Linked DNA regions of Homo sapiens: region 1 is linked to region 2. Evidence: fine-mapped expression QTL. A gene starts in region 2. The other region holds a variant in brackets. All regions are shown on one strand. Distances are between the middles of the regions.

Region 1 (8,322 bases), 69 kb after region 2:
GCCACCACGCCTGGCTAATTTTTGTATTTGTAGTGGAGATGGGGTTTCACCATATTGGCCAGGCTGGTCTAGAACTCCTGACCTCGTGATCCGCCTGCCTCAGCCTCCCAAAGTGCTGGGATAACAGGCGTGAGCCACCACACCTGGCCTCTCCTCCTTGTTTCTAAGCTGATCTTTAAGCCCAGTCGTGGAACCAGATCATCTACCAAGGAAGGCAGGCAGTCTGGGGAGGCAGAGACAAGGGAAGCAAGCTGGTGGTGTGGGGAGGCGAGCACCAGCAGACAGTAGAAGGGCCCCAACACATGCAGGAGGTGGGCCTCCAGGGCAGGAATGCCTATAAGGATAGAGGGGTGGTGAGTGAGATGCCCTGTTCACACTTACCTTCCTCCAGCGGCAGGAGGGTGATGGCTGTGCTGAGTCGCCCACTGCCCAGGCTCACCAGGTGGGGTTTGTCCGTTTGCACTTTCAGCCCTTTGCCTGTCTCGATCAGGTCCAAGGGTCCTTTCTGTAGGTAGTACGGGTGGAGGACAAGCATCATTAGATTCAGCACCTTACCACCCTAAACCAGTCACACCAGCACTCTCTCCAGCCCTCGCCCCTCTCCGAAGGGCTCTGAGGGTGCTGAAAGGCTTAGCACAAAATCTTACACAGAGCATGATTCCACTAAATTGTAATTAGATCTGAATCTAGGCCACTAACTCATCCCACTGGATTTATCGCAAGTCTTGGCTTAACTGTGCCTTTTGTCTATTAAAACAGAAGCAAGGAGAAAGGGGTGGGGGGTGGGGGTGGCATTGGATAAGCAGCAGGGGTACTGTAGAGGAAGGCCAATCAAGCTCCCTGCAGACTTGTCCATGGCTATCCACGTGGCCATTGCTTGCCCCTGCTAAGCTCAAGTACAGGGAAGATAGAGGCATGGATCAAGGAGAGTGATACAGCCCAGGGTCAATCTGTAAACTGCTTTCGGACTTTCGATGGGTAGTTTCTGGGTGAACCAATTAACCTGATTCAGATAAAGACTGAGCTGTTAATAGGCTTGGGACCTGGGGAAGGGCAGAGAGGAACAGAATTGCTCCTTTCATCCTTGGGCTGGGACCACAAGGGGGTAGAAGAGCTGATCCCATCCCTATTATATCTCTCTTGCCTCACAGCCCTGATCCCACTCACCTGCACCATGGTCTGGGTCTGGCATCCAGGGCCTATTTGGTTCCTATTGAGAGCGTCCATGGTCCTAAGGCTCCAGAGCTCCTAGGGACACAGCAGAAAGGTGGTGAGTGGGGAGGCCAGGGCAGGAGAGGGAAAGAAGTAGGTTCTGTGGCAGGGTTCTCAGGGCAGAGGTGTCACCAGTCACCATCATTCCCCAAATGCTCATGCTGAAGGGAAATAGAGGCAGCTAAAGAGCTTGGGTGGGAGTTGTCTGGGAGCAGTGCCAAGTCTCCAGCCAGCCACAGCATGGATACCAGTCCTGCCCCCTGCCACTGTAAGCACAAACAGTCCCATAGGGCCCAATCTATACTTCTGTGCTTTCTTGCCCTATGCTACTCAGAACCCGGGTTTTGACAGCTGAAGACCCTTGGCCCTGTGGAGCCTTAAGCAGGGTGGGGAAAATCTACCTTAGTGGGAGAAGCAGCAAGGAAGCCCCTCCAAGGACACTGGTAGCCAGAGGGCCCCCAGGTAGGTGGCAGGGCTAAAACAGGAGCTCCCTCCTGCAACCTTTCATTCTCCTCTTCACCATTTGTCTCTTTTCCCAGGGCTTTAGTAGGATGTTTTCTTAAAGGAGACACAAAAGAAAAACTCAGCCATTCCTGCTATCTCCAGATGTCTCAACTCCTACACCTTTTCTTCCCCAGAAAGCAACCTCAACCCAACACAATCAGCTAAAAAAATTTTTTTTAATTAAAAACAAAAAACTTTAGTGATAACTAATACTGGGAATATTGGGCTCAACTCTTGGGTTCTTAATTGGCTAGGTGCTATAGGAAGCTTAAACCATTAGAACCAGGAGTAAGACAGATTCCAGAGCCAGAACTTGAATACTCCCCACCACCACCCCACTGCCCCTCACCCACCATGCATCCCTCTCTCCCTGGCTCATGTTTTTGGTATCTGAGATGTGAGGACCTTTGTGTACTAATGTATGCCCCCATGCCCATCCCTTGGCCAACTAGCTAAGCTGAGAAACTTCCCACTTGCTGCTGAAATGTTACTGGGGAAAGCTAAGAGTGTGGCTGAGGGGTAAGGAGGCAGACCCAGGGAAACAGGGTTTCCTTCCACTCTCTCTTCAAGCCATCTACCAGGGGACTTGGAAAGGAAGTAGGGGCAGCAGCCCGCATTCCAAGGAGTGTCTGACCCTGGCAGTGGGTCCCGAGGACCTTAGCTATGGTGTTACTAAATTTACCCTCCCAGCTTCCACCCTTCCGGACCTGGACTGCATCATCTCCGTCACCATTTCCACCCAAGCTGGCGGAAGAGAGGCCGGAACCCAGGCTGGGGCCCACCCCAAGACTGCCAGGGAAGAGGGGAGGGAAAACGCCATTAACCTATGCAAAGCCCCAAGCTGGCCTGGCACCTCCCCAGAATTCCTGGCCATGGAGAAGAATTTCCAAGGACAAAGATTGCTGTACTGCTTCCTTAGACTCAGGGAAATCCCTCAGCATTTTCTGAGGGAGGAGGGGCAAGAGAGTGGGTTGGGAATGGGGAGTTTATGTAAAAAAGGGGTTAAGAAAAACAAAATAATAAATAATGGTGAAGGAGAAACATCATCCTTTGGTAGAAAGAACTTTAGACTGGGATATATAAAGCCTTAAATTCTACCCTGACTTTATTTATTTATTAGCTATAAGATCCTAGACAAGTTATTTAACTTCTCTGATTATCAAGTTATTCTTCTATAAAACTAGAGTAATGGAAAAAAATAAAAAAGACTGTCTGGATCAGTGCTTGCCTGGGGCTAGGGGTGGAATGAGGAGTGACTGTAAAAGGGCACAAGTTTGGTGGGGGTGGGGTGGGGGGAATGTTTTCAAATTAAATTGTGATGATTGCATGGCTCTGTAAATATACTAAAAATCTTTTAATTGCATACTTAAATTGGGTGGATGTTATAGTATATAAATTATACCTCAATAAAGCTGTCAGTTTTTTAAAAAGGACTGTCTGAAATTCAGGTATTATATTAAATGGCATTCTGTGAAAGCAAAGCACTTAATGCCATTTATTATTATTATTATTATTTTTTTTTTTTTTTTGAGACGGAGTTTCACTCTTGTTGCCCAGGCTGGAGTGCAGCGGTGCTATCTCGGCTTACCGCAACCTCCACCTCCCGGGTTCAAGCGATTCTCCTGCCACCAAGCCCAGCTAATTTTGTATTTTTAGTAGAGACGGGGTTTCTCCATGTTGGTCAGGCTGGTCTCGAACTCCCGACCTCAGGTGATCCGCCCGCCTCGACCTCCCGAAGTGCTGGGATTACAGGCGTGAGCCACCGCGCCTGGCCCCGTTTATTATTATGAGCTGTGTGACCTGGAGCAAGGCAGTTCACCTGTCTGGGCGTTAGTTTATTTATCTGTCATATTGGAGTATTGGTCACTATCGCCGTGTGGGGCAGCTGTGGTGTGCTCATTTATTTACACCCAAGAACTTCAAGTGGAGATAAAGATTGTAAAGGAGTAAGGCCGATGGAGAACAAGAGTGATTAGAGGAGAGAAGAGAATAAGGAGGCGAAAGTAAAGGGAGAGATAAGGAGAGAGGTGTGGGGAGAAGATAAGAAAAGATGGAGAGATTGGGAGGTGCGAGGCTGTGGCCCCAGCACAGTAACCTGATCCAAGAGAAGTGGAAAGAGACACCAGGCCAACCTGCCCTGCACTCAGGCGGTGCTTTCCCAAAGGGCGATCGCCGCGGCCGAGAGCGGCCACCTGGGGGCGCCCTCACCTTGACTCCCGCTCTGGCCCCGGCGGCTGAGTGGCGCTACGCGAGGGACGTCCCTCACCTGCGGCCCCGCTTCCATCTGGCCCGCGGCTCCCCAGCAACCCGGCTGTCATTACCCGCCCGCCCGGCCCCGCGGCCAAAAAAAGACCCCTGCGGTGCGCGTCCGGCCCTGGGTGCCCTCCCGCACGCTGGGTACAGACGCCCCAGTGCCGCCCCGGCAGCCGAGTGGCGGAGGCCCAGGTGTCTGGATTTGACGAGCGACAGGCAAGGCCCTCTGTGCGCAAGGCCGGGGCGCCGGCAGGTGACCCCGGCCCGGGCCCTCGGCCTCCTCCCCCGCGGGAATGCGCCGACACCCCAGCCACGCGGGACACCAGTCTGAAGCCCTCTCCGCCGAGTGGAGCACCCAGAGTGAACTCTCGGGGGTCT[T/C]GGCCCCCGCCTGAAGGAGGCCAAGGAAGGGCCGACTGGCTCCAGCACCAACGGGCACTGACACAGCTCCCGGGCTCCCACGGAGTCCCAGGACGAGAGGTCCAAAGCCAGCCCCAGAGCACCAGACCCGGCCCTTCGCGGGGCCACTGCTCGGGCGCTCCCCGGAGCCCCGCGGGTCGCCCGGCCTCACCTGTGTCCCTGGGGGTCGGCCTCGGCCTCGGCCCAAGCGGTGCATGGCTGTGGCCAGAGGCCCGCCAGGCCGAGCTGGGGTCCTCTCGGCCGCCGCCTTCGCCCTCCAGGCGCACATCCGCCCTCGAGAAAGGGCCGCCGTCAGAGGAAGGAGTCAGGAAGGGAAGGAAACTGAGGCGGGGAGCCCAGCGGGGGACGCCCGAGTGGGGAGGGGGACGAGAGAACTTAAGGATGAGAAAAACCTGACAGAGATGAATGGGGGTGTGCAGAGGGACGGGGCGGGGAAGGGGAGCCACCGGGATGTGAAGGGGAAAATGAAAGGCAGACTAAGAGATGGGAAAAAATGCAAGCTGGGGAGGGGAAGACCGAGGGCAGAGGATGCGGGGAGACTGAAGAACACAGAGGTGGAGGGGTCGGGGGAAGAAAGGACAGGCGGGTCCTCAAGTGGAGGCGACGACAGACGGGAACACTGGGGATGCGCGAGGGCAGCGGAGGGGAGGCTGACGGGCGGGGAGATGGGGCGAAGGAGAGGGAGGCTGGGGCCCACCGGGACCCCAAAGGCGGAAGAGAGGAGAGATGGGCGGCCCGAGGAGAGGGGGAGCCGGGAGAGCGCGGATGGAGCGAGGGCTGTTGCTTGGGTGTCCGGTGGTGGAAAGGTGCCTCTCCGCGGTCCGCAGGGCCGAGGGAGGGAGGTTTCCGCAAGGTAGCGGCCCCTTGCACCCCTCGGCCTGCTCCTGCCCAGGCTGCCCGCGTGGGACAAGGCCGCAGTGTTGGGCGCCTGCCGCTGCCGCCTGCCCGCCCGCCCCTGACAAGCGGCCTTTCTTTGGCGGGGCAGAGAGAAGGAGCCGCTTGTTTGCGCGGCCGGGAAACGGGGCGGCCCCCACAGACACCGCCCGTTCCGAGCCTGGCAGCTGCGGGAAGGGCGGCTGAATGTGTGTGAGGGGCCGCGTGTGTGAGCTGGGGCTGCGGTGTGAGCTGGGCTGTGTGTGTGACTGGGGCTGCATGTGTGAGGGGGCTGCATGTGTGAGCTGGGCTGCGTGTGTGAGCTGGGCTGTGTGTGTGGCTGGGGCTGTGTGACGGGCTGCGTGTGTGAGCTGGAGTGTATGTGTGAGCTGGGCTGCGTGTGTCAGCTGGGCTGTGTATTGAGCTGAGCTGTGTGTGTGATAGGCTGTGTGTGTGATGGGCTGTGTGTGTGAGCTGGGCTGTGTGTGTAAGCTGGGCTGTGTGTGTAACTGGGGCTGTGTGTGTGAGCTGGGCTGTGTATTGAGCTGAGCTGTGTGTGTGACGGGCTGCGTGTGTGAGCTGGGCTGTGTGTGTATAACTGGGGCTGTGTGTGTGAGCTGGGCTGTGTGTGTGACGGGCTGCTTGTGTGAGCTGGGCTGTGTGTGTGAGCTGGGCTGTGTGTGTGACGGGCTGCTTGCATGAGCTGGGCTGTGTAACTGGGGCAGTGTGTGTGAGCTGGGCTTCGTGTGTGAGCTGGGGCCTCGTGTTTGACTGGGGTGTGTGTGTGAGAGCTGGGGCTGCGTGTGTGAGCTGGGCTTCGTGTGTGAGCTGGGGCCTCATGTGTGACGGGTACGTGTGTGAGCTGGGTTGTGTGTGTGACTGGGGTGCGTGTGTGAGGTAGGCTGTGTGACTGGGGTGCATGTGTGAGCTGGGGCGCGTGTAAGCGGGGCTGCGGGTGTGAGGGGCTGCGTGAGCGCGGGGCGCTTTCCTGTGAGGCGTAAGGCATGGAGTGCGTGGGAAGGCCTCGGCGTGTGGGCGGGTCCGGGTGTGTCTGGGTGGCGTGACGCAGGGACGTAGGTGTGCGAAGTGTCGCGGAGGCGTGCGTGTGTGCCGCGTGGGAGCCCGGCGTGGTGGGGCGCCTGCGTTTGCGTTTGACGGCTGGGGGGTGAGCCCGCCGCCCGATGAGTCAGCCTCGGGAGGCTCCAGGACCGCTGAGCTAACGGCCCAGAATGCAGCCCCGCCCCAGAGCCGTGGGTCCCCGGCAGGGCTGTGCGGTCGCCCGGCCAAGTCCCCACTCGAGCCTGCCTCGGCGGAAGCGCTAGCGGGCGACTCGGCCACCCTGCGCCGGCGCCCCTACCCAGCCGCCCGCCCGCACTTCCCTATCCCGGGGGAGCCCGGATGACTTGGGTCAGCCTCCGCTCGGGGAACTCCGCTAGGGATTCCAATAGGGACCGCGCGGGCGTGGCAAGGCGCCCCAGGCGGCCTCCCCGGCCCCCGAGGACGTGGGGCCTTGGGGAGTGCCTGGGAGGCCCCAGGCGGGCTTCCCATCTCCTGGACACCCCCAGGCAGCCCTCCTAGACGCTCAAGACTCTGAGCCGGACTCCGAATCCCTTCCTGGTCCATCAAGGCGGCCGGCCTGGGGACAGGCGGGGAGACGTCACAGGAGATACCCCCGCCCCAAGGTCCTGCTGTGGGCGGAGAGGGGGAGGTGTGGGGCGCTGGAGGACGAAAACCCGCGCGCGCGCTCGCCGCCCGATACCCCGCGAGTGTCCGCCCGGCCGCCTGGGTGCCGGCGGGAGAGTCTGGATAGGGCCAGGATCAGAGTTTCTCCAAGGGGGGGAGAGCGTCACGGCCCCCTCTGGCGGTGGCGTTGGCAGCGGCCGAGGAAGGCAAAAGCAAGAGGCTCACAGGAAAACTCCCCATAACGCTCCTTTCGCCCCCACGCACTCACCTGGGGTGCCCTCTCTCCCCCACGGGTTTCTGCCGAGCTCCCTAGCCTAGAGCTGATCTCAGGGCTCTCGCCAGGCCCCGGGGACTTCCCCTTATCCAGTCCTAGCACCGCAGCGAATGGGACCCGCAAGTGTAGTGGGACGGGGCGCTCTTACCTAGAGGTGGGGGGGGGGCAGGGAGACACTGGTCCCTTAGCCTGGCTCGGCTCGGTCGCGGTGGCCTCAGGCTTAGGAGGACACCGTTGCTTTTCCCCGGGAGCTCGCTAAGTAGGAGGAGAGCGAGCCTGTCCCGCCCCCCTCCCGCCAGTCCCCGCCCCCGTCCCCCGTCCCGTCCGCCTGGCCAGCCAAAGAAGACGCCCTTGTGGGGCTGGAGCCCAAGGTCCCCCCACCCACCCTTTCCCACAGCAGCACCTCCCCCAGCCTGCACAGCGCCCGCTTTGTTCATCTTTGCAGCTGGGCTCTCCACCATCACCACCACCACCACCACCACCACCACCACCACCACCACCACCACCACCACCACCACACATCCCCCTCTCCTCCCACCCTGCCCTCCCGACTCTCCTAGACCACCCTCCACTCCCAGGCTTTAACACGCTTTTGAGAGGGTGTTTTTGACAATCCGTTCTCCCTCCCCCAAACTCTCCCCTCTTTCTTTTTGCCTTAGATGCCTGAAACCTCCACGGGCTCCCACTGAACCTCCCAAATCGAAGCCCCTACAACATGCTCTCAACATCTCCAGAACATCTACTGAGGGTACCCAGGTCTTCTCCCTGTCACCTCCTCCCCTCGCCCTATTCCAAGCCCCACCATGAAGAGCTGTAAATGACATTGATAGCCACGCACATCAGGCTTCACAGACTTTCTTAAGGATAGGCACAAGAAGACTCGTTAAAGTGTCATGCAAACTCCAAAGCACAGGAAAACCGAATGGAATTATCATCTTGCCCCCATGGAGCTCCACACCCCTCCACCCCGACAGACTTGCTGGATTACAGATTGGGAGATGGAGGCAGGCTATAGACATACAATTGAGCACACCAACCTGTAGTAGGAGTGGGAGTTAATAAGGAAGAGAAGGAGGCACTAAACACCTAAAAGCAGCCCCCAAATT
Region 2 (8,322 bases):
AAGGGACAGGAGGGAGAAGTTAAGACTACTTTGTTATCATAAGGTACTTGCACTACCATGAAATGTAGTGTTATTTGAGTAGACTTGGTTAGTTGTAAACATATAATACTAAAAAAAGAACTGCTGGAGGCCGGGCGTGGTGGCTCATGCCGGTAATCCCAGAACTTTGGGAGGCTGAGGTGGGTGGATCATGAGGTCAGGAGTTCAAGAACAGCCTGGCCAATATGGTGAAACCCCATCTCTACTAAAAATACAAAAATTAGCCGGGTGTGGTGGTGGGCGCCTGTAGTCCCAGTTACTCAGGAGGCTGAGGCAGGAGAATCACTCGAATCCAGGAGGCGGAGGTTGCAGTGAGCCAAGATCATGCCATTGCACTCCAGCCTGGGTGATAGAGCAAGACTTCGTCTCAAAAAAAAAAAAAAAAAACACTACTGGCTGGGCATGGTGGCTCATACCTGTAATCCTAGCACTTTGAGAGGCCAAGGTGGGAGGATTGCTTGAGCCCAGGAGTTTGAGACCAGCCTGCGCAATATAATGAGGTGTTCCCCCAGAACAAAGCCAGTCTGCATAATGGGCAGAAGATCTGAATCACTATAAACCTTGCTTAAAAGAAGACATACAAGTCGCAAACAGGTATATGAAAAGGTGCGCTACATAACTGATCATCAGAGACATGCAAATCAGAACTACAATGAGATATTATCTCACTACGGTTAAAATGGCTTTTATCCAAAAGACAGGCAATAACAAATGCTGGTGAGGATGTGGAGAAAAGGAACCCTCATATACTGTTGGTGAGAATGTAAGTTAGTACAATCACTGTAGAGTCATGTGTTTTTTTAAAGAACATTGGCTGGGCACGTTGGCTCATGCCTGTAATCCTAGCACTTTGGGAGGCCAAGGCGGGTGGATCACCTGAGGCCAGGAGTTCGAGACCAGCCTGGCTAACACGGTGAAAACCCATCTCTACTAAAAATACAAAAAGTAGCTGGGTGTGGTGGTGGGCGCCTGTAATCCCAGCTATTCACGAGGCTGAGGCAGGAGAATCGCTTAAACCTAGGAGGCAGAGGTTGCAGTGAGCCAAGATCATGCCACTGCACTCCAGCCTGGGCAACACAGCGAGACTCCATCTCAAAAAAAAAAAAAAAGATGTTTAATTTTATGTGTCAACATGGCTAGGCAAAGGTATCCAGATAGTTGGTCAAGCATTATTCTAGATGTTTCTGTGAAGATATTTTTTAGATGAAAATAACATTTAAATTTGTAGACTTTGAGTAAAGCAGGTTACCCTCCCTAACTTGGATGGGCCTTATCCAATCAGTTGAAGACTTTAATTTGAAAAAGACTGACCTCCCCAGAAGAAGAAGGAATTCTCTCAGCATGCTGCCTTCAGACTTGAACTGCAGCTTCTTCCCTGTTTCTCCAGCCTGCCAGCCTACCCTAGAGATTTTGGACTTGCCAGCTACCTCTCAAACTCTCTCTCTCTACCCCCATCCCCCATATATGTATTGTTTCTGCCTAATACGGTCCAGGACCAGATGGCTTCATTGGTAAATTCTACCAAACATTTAAAGAATTAACAATCCTTCTCAAACACTTCCACAAATAGAAGAGGGGCATATTTCCTAACTCATGCTATGAGGCTAACATTACCCTGATATTAAAACCAGATAAAGACATCACAAGAGGGCTGGGCATGGTGGCTCACACTTGGGGAGAAACACTTTGGGAGGCCAAGGCGGGAGGATCACTTGAGGCCAGGAGTTCAAGACCAGCCTGGGCGACACAGTCAGATGTAGTCTCTACAAAAAAATTTAAAAATTACCCAGGCGTGGTGGCATGCACCTGTAGTCCTGGCTACTCAGAAGGTTGAGGCCAGATGACCACTTGAGCCCCAGGAAGTCGAGGTTGTGGTGAGCTGTGTTCATGCCACTGTATTCCAGCCTGCTGGGTGATGGAGCAAGACTATGTGTCCAAAAAAAAAAAAAAACAAAACAAAACAAGGAAAGAAAATTACAGTCAAATATGCTCTATACATATTGATGCAAAATTCCTCAAAAAAATACTCGCAAGCCAAAACCAACAGTTTATTAAAAGGATTAGACATCATGACCAAGTGAGATTTATCCAAAGAATGCAAGGGTGGTTGCACAGCATTGTGAATGTAATAAAAGGAAATTGAATTGTACACTTAAAAATTGTTGACCAGGCATGGTGGCTCACACCTGTAATCCCAATACATTGGGAGGATGAGGCAGGAGGATTGCTTGAGCTCAGGAGTTCCACACCAGCCTGGACAACATAGGGAGACCCAATCTCTAAAAAAAAAAAAATTATTTTTAATTTAAAAATTAGTTGGGCGTGGTGGCATGTGCCTGTGGTCCCAGCTGCTCAGGAGGCTGAGGTGGGAGAATCCCTTAAACCTGAGAGATCAAGGCTGCAGTGAGCTGTGATGGAGCCACTGCATGCCAGCCTGGGCAACAGAGCGAGACCCTGTCTCAAAAAACAAAGCAAACAAAAAAAACAATGCCAGCTGCCCACATTACTGGGTGGAGCTATCTGAACCTTTACTAGTTCAGAGTGGTGCCTGATTCATGAGTCATTTCTTTGCTTGAATAAATGGTTAAATTTAATTTGTCTAAGGTTTTTCTTTTTAATAGCAGTAAACACTGCTCAGGTGCCACAACTGACATCCTTAACTGCAAACCTAAGTCCTTCAGGAGAGGTCATGCCTATCATTAAACTCCATGTGCCTTGCCCACCCCCTGTCCCCTGTCCCTTCAGCTCACCTTCCATATGTTGAGGGGATGAGCCTCCTAAAGTAACCGAATCTGCTTTTTTTTTTTTTTTTTTTTTTTTGAGACAGAGACTTACTCTGTCGCCCAGGCTGGAGTGCAGTGGCATGATCTCGGCTCACTACAACCTCTGTCTCCCGAGTTCAAGCGATTCTCCCACCTCAGCCTCCTGAGGAGCTGGGATTACAGGTACCCGCCATCATGCCCAGCTAATTTTTGTATTTTTGTAGAGACGGGGTTTCACCATGTTGGCCAGGCTGGTCTTGAACTCCTGACCTCAGGTGATCCACCCGCCTCGGCCTCCCAAAGTGGTGGGATTACAGGCATGAGCCACTGCACCCAGCCTGAATCTGCTTCTTAAGCTCACAAACTTCTCTGCTGGTTCCACTTTGGGGAATTACAAGGAATTACATTCCTTGGCTTGGCAAAGACCATTTCCAGACTGGTGCCAACATGTTCCTCCAGTCTATCTCAAAACCCTTCCCTGCATGAACACCAAGTTCTCTGCAGCTAGGCTGAGGGGTTTGCTCTTCTCTTCACATGCTCTGCATACATTGTAGTGGTCTCCAGCCCATTTCCCTTGGCAAACTCCTATGCGGTCATCAAGACTCATTAGGACTGGCGCAGTGGCTCACGCCTGTAATCCCAGCACTTTGGGAGGCCAAGGCGAGCAGATCATGAGGTCAAGAGATTGAGACCATCCTGGCCAACACAGTGAAACCCCGTCTCTACTAAAAATACAAAAATTAGCTGGGCGTGGTGGCGGGCACCTGTAGTCCCAGCTATTCAGGATGCTGAGGCAGGAGAATTGCTTGAACCCGGGAGGCGGAGGTGGCAGTGAGCTGAGATCACGCCACTGCACTCCAGCCTAGCGACAGAGTGAGACTCAGTCTCAAAAAAAAAAAAAAAAAGACTCATTACAAATGACACACTATTGTGGGTCTCCCTTAGTCCTCCCCAGACAGAATGGTTCTACTGTCCTGTGCTTCCGCTGTATCTCTTGCAGATAACAGTGAGAGGCCCTGAATTTCACACCACACCAGGGACAGGATCTTGAGCCATTCCATTTGAAATGTTAAGGGAAATGGTAACTCTCTGAGGTTGGTGGTCTTGGGGCCACCCAAGGAACCTGGCATCCAGGTTACAGGTGTGTGGCCTCGACTGTGTCCCTGGCCTTTGGGTGCCCACTCCCCACCCCCACCACCATGCTCTGAGGGAAGGGCCTGAGCCATTGGCACCAGCTGAGACTGTGAAATAGAAGAGGCAAAGTAGAAGCAAGGGAGGTGGCCACTGTGCCCTGAGAGCAGGAGGGGCAAGCGGGCCACACACAGACCAAGCACACGTCCCCTCAGGTGGCCACGCCTCAAAGGCTGGACTTTGGCCGACTTGGACAGGCAGGTGAGCCAGGCTGTGCCCAGCAAGCCGAAGGTGCCTGGGCTTGCTCATTCAGTCACAGTCACAGCCACCATGCCAGGGAGGACCTGGGAGCTGTGCCTGCTACTGCTGCTGGGGCTGGGACTGGGGTCCCAGGAGGCCCTACCCCCACCCTGTGAGAGGTAGGGGTGTGGGGAAGGCAGCAGGGGAGGATGGCAATAAGAGGGAGGCTGGGATGAGATCTCAAGCTCTGGGGTCGGTACTTCAGAGGGAAAGGAAGAGATTATAAAGGAAGGAAAGAGTAGGGAAGAGAAGAAAATGAGAATTCCTATGTAGCAGGCTCTGTGCTGGGCACTGCACCTGCAGTCCGTTTTTTTTGTTGTTGTTGTTAGAGTCTTGCTCGGTCGTCCAGATGGAGTACAGTGGCACCATCTCCACTCACTGCAGCCTAGACCTCCCGGGTTCGAGAGATTCTCGTGCCTCAGCCTCCTGAGTAGCTGGAATCACAGGCATGCACCACCACGCCCAGCCTGTCATTGATTTTTACCAAAATTTTCCACCGTTGGAAGGGACATTAGGCTTGGCGACTGTGCTGGGAATACAAGCGTGAGCCACCGCCCCCTGTCGGGACCTGCAGTCCTGATACCAGACGCAGCTGCCAGAGCCTGGCCTGAGGTCCAAGAGCCTGCTGGCCAGAGCCCGCCCTCCCTTCCTCTCCTCCTCCAAGCTGCCCCTTGAACTGTGCAGGCCTCTTCTCAGGATTGTTCTAGCAAACTTTCTGCTCCAGCTTCCTAGTCTGGGTGTGAGAGGCAGCCTAAGGGCCTGAAGACAGCACTTGGGCTTGAGCCCTGACCCTCATATTCTCTCTGTGACCCAGGGCAGGTCAAGGCTCTTTCCTGAGCCTGAGTTTCCATCACCAGGGACAGAGATGAGTGACCCTGTCCTGTCTCCTGGACTCAGGCGATGTCCACCCTTCGTTCCACATGGATTTATGGAGCTGTGGCCACATCAGCCACTTTACCAGCTCCTGCAAGAACAATAATAATAGAAGAAAAACAGCTGGGCACGGTGGCTCATGCCTGTAATCCCAGCACTTTGGGAGGCCAAGGTGGGAGCTATCATCTGAGGTCAGGAGTTCGAGACCAGCCTGGCCAACATGGTGAAACCCCATCTCTATGAAAAATACAAAATTAGCCGGGCATGGTGGCGCACGCCTGTAATCCCAGCTACTCGGGAGGCTGAGGCAGGAGAGTCGCTTGAACTTGGGATGTGGAGGTTGCAGTGAGCCAAGATCATGCCATTGCACTCCAGTCGGGGCAACAAGAGCAAAACTCTATCTCAAATAATAATAATAATAATAATAGAAGCAAAACAGTAACAGAAGCACAGTTTGAAGTAGAGAGAAGTTAGGGCCCGCTGGTGTGGGTGAGCAGAGGGTGTGTTAGAGAGGATGGGGAGGGACGGTGTCTCTGAGGAGGTGATGTGTAAGCAGAATTGTGGCAGGAACCATTGCTGAGCTGATCTGGGAGAGGACAGTCCAGGCATGGAAAGGGCCATGCAGAGGCCCTGACGCACTGTTCAGGGATTGGGACGAAGGCCTGTGTGATTGGGGCAGAGTGGGAACAGGTCCGGGGAGAGCGGGGCTCCAGGCAACAAGGTTTGGGCTTGGGTTCCAGTGGTTAGACTAGAGACAGAGACAAGGGGTTCAATAGAGGGTGTGTGTTACAGGGAGAGTTGACAGTGCTTGCCCATGACAATTGTGGAATATAAAGGGGAAAAGTGTACCTGGGATAATTAATAGGTTTTGTCCTGAGCAATTGTAATGAGGACTTCAGAGAGGCTGGGTGGTCCAGTGCTTTGTCAAGCATTAGGCTGTTTGCCAAATGTAGGGGAAGATGACTTTACTGGTGTTCCCTAAGACCAACCTCAGGCCAGTGATTCACTAACACTTCCAAATGGTTATACCATGATTATGGTTTCATTTTTTTTCTTTTTTTGAGACAGAGTCTCGCTCTGTCGCCAGGTTGGAGTGCAGTGGTGCAATCTCGGCTCGCTGCAACCTCCACCTTCTGGGTTCAAGCGATTCTCCTGCCTCAGCCTCCCCAGTAGCTGGGACTACAGGCACCTGCCACCACGCCCAGCTAATTTTTGTATTTTTAGTAGAGACAGAGGTGTTGCCATGTTGGCAAGAATGGTCTCAATCTCTTGTCCTTGTGATCCGCCTGCCTCAGCCTCCCAAAGTGCTGGGATTACAGGCATGAACCACCGTGCCCAGCCTTGATTATGGTTTCTTACAGTGAAAAGATACATGTTAAAGCCATCAAAGGTGAAATATTCTAGGGCCAAGTCCAGGAGAAAATAATCTCAATCTTCCAGTTTTTCCTCTCCCAGTGGATTTATATGGACAGGACTTGATTTTTCCAGCAATAACATGTGACAGCACGCATGAAGTATTGCCAATCACAAAAGCTCACCTGAGTCTTGGTGTCCAGTGTTTTTATTGGAGGTCAGTGATGAAAGCGTGGACTACCTGTGTGGCTGACCTCAGTTACTCACTCTCCAGAGTTCAAACTGATACTGGGCGGCCAAAGGCCCCTGCCACAAATCACATTATTAGCATCAAATATCTGGCATGGCCCAAGGCCCCAGAAAAACAAAGACTTATCAGGCAGCATATTTTGGTAATTTAAATCTCATCTCTCAGGGCTGGTCACAGGCCAGAATTTTCTCTGAAATGTGCAGGGTTTGAACACAGCAGACCTGCTGAGTCAATCCTTTCATGTATAAGCCACTTCTTGTATAATGAGGAATTAGTTTCATTTTTGTCTTGGGTTCCTCCAAAGTAACCTCTAAGCTCCTTGGAATCTCCCAAGTGATAGGAATGTCTGTTATTAATAGTGGTCCCTGATTAGTGTTTTTTTGTTGTTGTTTTTTTCTTTCTTTTTTTTTTTGAGACAGCAATCTAGCTCTGTTGCCCAGGCTGGCAGTGCAGTGGTGAGCATTTTGGCTCAATGCAACCTCTGCCCCCAGGGTTCAAGTGATTCTCCTGCCTCAGCCTCCCAAGTAGCTGGGACTATAGGCACGCACCACCACGCCTGGCTAATTTTTGTATTTTTAGTAGAGACGGGGTTTCACCATGTTGGCCAGCTGGTCTTAAACTCCTGACCTCAAGCAATCCACCCACCTTGGCCTCCCAAAGTGCTGGGATTACAGGCATGAGTCACTGCACCTGGCCTGATTGCTTTTTGAGACAGGGTCTCACTCTGTCACCCAGGCTGGAGTGCAGTGGTGCAGTCATGGCTCACTGCAGCCTCAATCTCTCTGGGCTTAGGTGATCCTCCCACCTTGGCCTCCTGAATAGCTAGGACTAGGTGTGTGCCACCATGCCTGGCTAATTTTTGTATTTTTTGTAGAGATGGGGTTTTGCCATGTTTCCCAGGCTCTTGGTAGCTTTTGTTAATGAGGTGACTTATGGTGGGTCCCTAGACAGCTTCTGCTAACAAGACGACTCCACATGAAGGCAGGCCGTGCCAGAAAGGCCAAGCATGTGTGTAGAGGGTTGGGGTTTTGGTCCACATGATATCAGCCCAACTTCTCAACCTTCAGGGAGGAGAAGGGGCTGGAGATGGAGTTCAATTACATGATCAATGATTCAATCAATCATGCGTATGTCATGAAACCCCAATAAAAACTCTGGACTTCAAAGTCCTGGTAAGTAGGCTGGGCACAGTGGCTCATGCCTGTAATCCCAACACTTTGGGAGGCCGAGGTGGATGGATCACTTGAGGCCAGGCATTTGAGAGCAGCCTGGCCAACATGGTGAAACCCTGTCTCTACCAAAAATGCCAAAAATTAGCAGGGTGTGGTGGTGCATGCCTGTAATCCCAGCTATTGAGGAGGCTAAGACGTGAGAATCATTGACCTGGGAGGTGGAGGTTGCAGTGAGTTGAGATTGCACCACTGCACTCCAGCCTAGGTGACAGAGTGAGACCCTGTCTCAACAAACAAACAAATAAAACAAATAAATACCAAGTCCTGGTTGGTGAACACATTGATGAGCCAGGAGGGGAAACGTCCTGGTTCCATGGGGAAAGGACACAGAAGCTCTACATTCAGGGCCCCCCTAGACCTTGCCCCATGCACCCCTTCATTT

Direction of the effects. Positions count from the first base shown, and alleles are read on the strand shown. Sizes are in standard deviations (SD) of each study's normalised expression.
In carriers of allele T in region 1, the expression in esophagus mucosa of the gene that starts at base 4,240 in region 2 tends to be lower than with C alone (small effect, 0.31 SD a copy in GTEx).

Evidence for each region. PIP is the estimated chance that this variant, and not a neighbour inherited with it, causes the effect.
Region 1: its variant is fine-mapped to the expression of TREH in esophagus mucosa (GTEx, PIP 0.96).

The regions. Positions count from the first base shown.
Region 1 is chr11:118,606,742-118,615,063 of GRCh38, reverse strand. It overlaps PHLDB1 (pleckstrin homology like domain family B member 1), which reads right to left and starts at 7,449. Exons shown (of 23, transcript NM_001144758.3): 1 at 7,365-7,449; 2 at 1,168-1,248; 3 at 382-505. The coding sequence starts at 1,227. LOC124902765 (a long non-coding RNA gene) reads left to right here and starts at 6,553. Exons shown (of 2, transcript XR_007062908.1): 1 at 6,553-6,941; 2 at 7,876-8,322. RefSeq lists silencers at 4,163-4,222, 6,738-6,807, 6,868-6,957 and enhancers at 4,930-5,603, 5,604-6,278, 6,316-6,610. The variant T/C (reference allele first, on the strand shown) is at 4,348.
Region 2 is chr11:118,675,568-118,683,889 of GRCh38, reverse strand. It overlaps TREH (trehalase), which reads left to right and starts at 4,240. Exons shown (of 15, transcript NM_007180.3): 1 at 4,240-4,351. The coding sequence starts at 4,263. RefSeq lists enhancers at 3,689-4,348, 4,349-5,010.